Regions from separate parts of the Homo sapiens genome. Here region 2 is linked to region 1. Evidence: fine-mapped expression QTL. A gene starts in region 1. The other region holds a variant in brackets. All regions are shown on one strand. Distances are from middle to middle. Region 1 holds the start of HEPH (hephaestin). Region 2 overlaps VSIG4 (V-set and immunoglobulin domain containing 4).

The links. PIP is the estimated chance that this variant, and not a neighbour inherited with it, causes the effect.
Region 2: its variant is fine-mapped to the expression of HEPH in whole blood (TOPMed, PIP above 0.99).

What each region holds. Positions count from the first base shown.
Region 1 is chrX:66,163,091-66,166,004 of GRCh38, forward strand. It overlaps HEPH (hephaestin), which reads left to right and starts at 1,157. Exons shown (of 21, transcript NM_001367233.3): 1 at 1,157-1,380.
Region 2 is chrX:66,032,126-66,035,039 of GRCh38, forward strand. VSIG4 (V-set and immunoglobulin domain containing 4) reads right to left here. Exons shown (of 8, transcript NM_007268.3): 2 at 1,349-1,705; 3 at 343-624. Among named protein-coding and RNA genes, the nearest start is that of VSIG4, 6.5 kb to the right of the region's middle. RefSeq lists an enhancer at 400-1,599. The variant T/C (reference allele first, on the strand shown) is at 1,829.

The DNA of each region.
Region 1 (2,914 bases):
AGATGTGTAAATTTACAGGGCTGGGAGGGTCCATATCTAGTTTAAGACCCTCATTGTAGAAATAGAAAGAGGCCCAGAGAAGAGAAGGGAGTGGGCCAAATCCACAAAATCCACATAGCTGATTACTCCTAGAGCAAGTGGGGCGAGAACCTTGGTCACTTGACTCAGGACAGTGACTTTTCACTCTTCTCTCTTTCCACCAGGAATGGGAATGACCTTTGACTTTAAACAAATCCAGACTCCAGTTTTACCCTGAATTGTTGGGGGAACATTTTGTTTTTTTTTTCTTTTTAGTATTTTCAATTCTTCCATGTCTTAGTTTTTAGGGTGTTGACCTGTGTTAATCCAGGCTATCTTCTAGCTATATCTGGTTTCCTCAGGTGGAAAATGTTAAATATAGTTAATATAAAATTTCACTCTAGAATCTGCTAGAAATGACGGAGGCAAAGTTAATGTATATATAAAAAAATCCACCAGTGACTGGTGGCCAGTAGGCTTTCAATAATTGTGAAGTCCCTTCTACCCCCTTGAAAGTACTGTGTTTCTCCCCTAAGCAGCACATTGTGTGTGGTGGTTTCATGGTTAAAAGTTTAGACAGACCCAGCAAATCTCTCTTCTCTTTTACTTCCTAAGTGTGTGACCTTGGACAAGTTACCTTCCCTCTCAGAGCTGAATTTTCCTCAGTTGTAAAATAGAGAGAATTAGAGTATTCATCTCACAGGATAATTGTGAGACTTAAATAAGAGAATGCATGTAAAATGGTTAACATAGGGCTTAGAATGTAGAAAAAAAGTCCTTTGTTTTATTGCCAATTTTATTTTTACTTATGACTAAGCAGCCATGACCTCAGAATAATAGTCAGGGCTGACAATTGTGCTTCAGAGCAAGAAGGGGAAGAGGTGGTGAGATGGAGGCTCTTTCAATTTCTACCTCATTTCTTAAATGGAGCTGTTGAAATCTACCCATGAGCTTTGGCTGGCCACACTGACAGTGTTCTCCTCTCAGCAAAGACCAATTAGCAAGTCCTGATAACAGAAGTACAACCCACCCCCTTGTAATTCCTCCTGAGATCCTAACCAGGATTTGTAAAACACCCGGATATGGGTAAAGAACCATCCCGGGTTTTGTATCAAACCAGGCCCCAGAGGAACAGGACATTCCAGTAGTTTTGTTTCTGGAAAAGAGGGCACCCAGCCCTTCCCCCTCCCTCATCCTCCCATCCCAGTAAACCCTGCCAAATTGGAATCCTGGACTTAATTTAGGAGAAAGGCCCTGTAACCAAGATACTGACTGAACATGGCTGGCGGACTCAGGCTGGGGTCTGCAGTGCAGCATTAATGGGCCGCTGACATGAATATGGAGTAGTTTTCTCTAGCAAAGGTAAGCTTTCTTTTCTCTCTTTTCAAACTCTACCTCACCTGCCTTCCTGTGCAAAAACGTTTATTTAGCTGGGTTTAAGGGAGTCCTGGCCACTAGGAGAAAAAGTCAGTGGCCAAAAAGTTGGAGGAGGTTTGGCTGATGTGCAGGAAAGTTAAAGGAGACAATAGGCTCCTTTTGTTCCTCTCGCCAAAATAGCCAGGACTACACTGGCTTGTCTGTTTCAGGGCCAATCCTGGAGCCATACAGAATAGTTCATTTTCCTGTCGAAATAGCTTGCTCATCTTCTGTTTCACAGGTTGAGGAATTTATTGAGGTGATGGATCTGAGGATTATGTAAGTGGGAACTCAGTTACTTAAAAATAACCATGTTTGGTTTCATATTTTGAGACCAGATTGGCACAGAGTAAGCCAATAAATGATAGCTTAACTAAGCTAAACATCTGAATTTGAGTAGTCTTAGTTTCTACATAGCAAAAATCTTTTAGAAATCATTGGTTCAAATTCTGGCTATTTTTAACAACTGGCTGCGTGACTTTGAGCAAATCCTTGCACCTCTCTGGTATCAGTTTTTTATACATCAAATGAGGGTGATTGAAAAAGATGGTTTCTAAAGGTTTCATGCATGTGTGAATCTATAACACGTTCAGTTTTTCATTACTCAGCATCTATTATATGACAAGCAATCCTTTTGCTAGGGACTCAAATATCCATGGTTTTATTTGGGCCTCAAGACAATCCTGTGAAAAAAATATCATCCCATTTTTTGGATGAGATGACTAAGGCTAAAATAATTTATTGAAAGGTCACATAGCTATCACAGACAAGAGATAGGATTTGAATCAAGGTCTTTAACTTCAAATCGGTATGTTTTCTATCACAGAGTTAAGAAAGCAGAGGACCAAAAGGTGAATTTTGATGGAGGGTTTATTAGGAAGGCTGCTGAGAGATTGAAGACAGGGCCCCAAAGATGGCTCAGCATTCCTTTATTCAGTTGAGTAATCCTTTGTTTAGGATGAGCCTGTCTAGCCCAAAGTAGTATAACTGAGAAAGGGAGATGGAGGGAGAGAAAAGAGCATTGTCGCAATAAAGGAACAGTTTGCAAATTCTAGGGAACACAGCAATGCAAATTGTTATGAATAATAGGGACCAGACCCAGGTGACACTGGGATGGCAGGAAGGTAAGGTAAAGGTAAGGGAGGCTTAACTTTATATTGGCTGATCTTCTCTCCAGGTTGGCACAAGGTTTCAGTATATCTTAACTAAACTATCCAAATAGCCTAGAATTTTTCTTTCTTTTTTCCTTCCTTTGAGTGCCTATTCCTTCTGCCTTCCTTTTTATTTTGTATTTTTTACTTTTTTCCAGGATTCTTTCTCAACTTACTTATTTCATTTCTCCTTTTATTTCTTCCTGTTCTTTTTCCTCATCAGTCTGGTTCTTCTCTATGGGCTTAGCTGAGAAAAAAAATATCCTTGCCCAAGTGAAAAGCTTACACAGGGCTTTCACATCTTTCATATTATTTGACCTTTATTACAA
Region 2 (2,914 bases), 130 kb before region 1:
CTCTTCTGTAAAGTAAGAGTAATGATAACTATCTCATGGGACAGTTGTGGGGATTCAATGAGAAAATGTGTGTCAAGTTATTGTACTTTGTATCTGGCAAATACAATGTGCTAGTAAATCTCTCTTTCCTTTACCGTCTTTATCTACTTAACCTATGGCATGATAGGCAATGTCTCTATCCCTGTTGTCCCCAGTCCAAGTTTTTTTTCTTTGTGATTGTACAACCATTGCCTGCTTGGGATCCTCCTCTCCCAATTCTTCTTTTGCATAAGGGCACCTTTTGAGGTATCTTTGTTTCAAGCTTGTGTGTTAAGATGCTCACCAGGAAAGAGGGCCGCTCACCTTTGACCACAAACTTCACAATGTCGCTGTGCTGCTCAGAGCCAACCTGGCCCTTGGCAGTGCAGAAATAGGAGCCTGAGTCGGCTATCACCGCAGGCTTGAAGAGTAAGGTACTTAGGGTTGCTACTTTGATGGGTTCCTGGTTATTAGTCTGTTGCTTATACCAAATATAACTGATGGGAGGAGAACCCCGAGCCTGGCATTGAAGGCTAATCCTCATTCCCTGGGGCACCGTGAAGCCATAACCGCTGCCAGTTGTCACTGTGGGCTTGGAGACAGAGACTGCAAAGAAAAGACAAGACAGGAAACTCTGGGCAGTCATAAGGATATGGGACCAAAAGGCTGAATCATTCTTGTTGGGCGTAAGGGCATGCATATATCTGCAACTGGAACTAAAGGGGGCTTCTGACTTTGGAGGAAATAAGAAGGAAAGGGCAATACAAATAAAATGGCTTCCTTTGAAGGTAGGTACTTTTTGGTATTACCCGGGGTTTTGGAATACTTGGAAGTAAAAATCAACTGACCTTTAAAATTAATGTAGTTTGTTCTGGGGCTCAAGTAGAGCTTTTGATTACCTGCAGTTGTGGATTATCAGGGCCAGACTTTTGTAAAATTGTCCAGCAAGCAAACTTATCCTGGCTAACCTCTGCCTCCCTTTCCCCAGAGCTTCTCTATCAGCATCTATCTACAAATTAAATGTACTCATTTTTGAGTTGTAAAGCCCAGAGCCCAAGGAGGGTAACTAGTCCATGGATACTGGCATTTCTGGGACACTCGAAGGGATAGAGATTTGCAGGTCAGGAACCCTTCCCAGCACTTCCTAAATTTAACTATGGGAATGCTGACCCTAAGAATCCTCTGCCTGTCCACTTCCTCTGATAAGCACATATACCTGTGGAGAGCCTCTGTATAAACGAAGGCCTCTGGATTTTTCAGGCTTTTCTAGAATTACATCCACTATTGATTCATTGATTATCAGTGCTTTCCTACCCCCATAGTGACTCACGTTTCTGGACACGGAGCTCAGTAATCTTATCTCTCACGACTTGGTTGCCATCAGGAGTCTGCCAGGTGACTTCACACGTGTAGTGGCTCCGGTCATCCATCTCCAGGGTGCTCAATTGGAGGGATACATCTCCTGGAACCTTGTGGCTCACATGCAGGCGGCCCTGGTACTTTGCCTGCTGGATATGGTCTCCAGAAGAGTCACGTAGAAAGATGGTGACAGGGTCTGAGCCACGTTGTACCAGCCACTTCACCAAGACTTGGGTGTAGCCTTGCAGGGGGTCATAGGTGCAGGGAAGATTCACATCCCCTTTCCAAGGTCCTGTTACACTCTCTGGCACTTCCAGGATGGGACGGCCTGAAGAGGCGGAACAGAGGAAAGAAGCAAACGTAGATGGCATACCTACTTGGCAACTAAGGTGACAGTGACAAACCTCAAAAGGTTTCTGAGAAATGCCACTCAACTTTCTTTCTATCACAC[T/C]TTTGTGTACCTGTGCCCTTTTGCTCTTTGCCAGCCTTCTCATCAATCAGAACCAGTCTTCAGAATGAAAGCCTTTAACATTGTTTAGATCTTGTGAGTTTCAAGTCCTTTTTATGTTACTGTCTTGCTATGAAGGTGATCCTAGGTAAGTCACCTTCTTACCGTGGAAGATTCATTTACTTCATCTATAATGTGGAGAGTTTGGGTGGTAGGTGCTCTAGATATTCTATCAAATCTGTCATTCTGCAAATCCATGAAAAAATTTTCTTTTCACATTTTCCAAAAGAGATGTGGAAGCAAAAATGCTAAGCATTTGGGTCTGGACTATTTCATTTTGTGTAAATTTGCACCTGGAGAAAGGTGGAGGCTTTTGAGATCAGCAAGAAAGGGCCCTCTGCCCTGTTATCTTCTCTTGTTCCCTTAGAAATCCTCAGTGAGTGGGGTCCCAACCCTAAGATGTTCTCTGGAAGACAGGCAAAAGGAAATACTGAGGGTGGAACCAAGTGTGAGGAAGAAGTCTGGATACACATTCCTGTTTAACAAAATCATTAGCTATTGTTAAATTCAAAACCTGCACTTTGTAAACCTGACTTTTTTTCTGATTTCTTTTGTTTATTTTCCTTTTGGTTTCTCTTAGTTCTTAGCAAGGATACATAGGAAAATTTCATCTTGAGGGGGAAAAGATTGCATCCATTTTTGGTCTAGAGAGGAAAAGGTTCTGAGTGAAATCCTGAAGCTGGCTGTAGTAGGGGTGGTGATAGAAGCAATGGGAGATTGCTCCTTGGCGTGTTTGAGAAGGAAACCCTTGGGGATGGGGGTGGGGGTGGGGAAGGAGGTGGGGATGTTGAAACAGCCATTGCCTCCCATCAGAATTTTCCATCCATAAGCTCTTATTTAGAAGATTTTTTGTTTTATTTAGCTGGGGCCAGGAGTGTGGGGTGGGTATATTTAGGCAATATATTCATGTCTCTCCTAAGAGAGGTGGTTTCAAAGATATGAGGTATTCCTGAATAAAAGTCTTTTATTGAGCCTAGAAATCCCAGTATTCAGTCAAGCGGATGGAAGATGACATCTTTTGGATGGGTT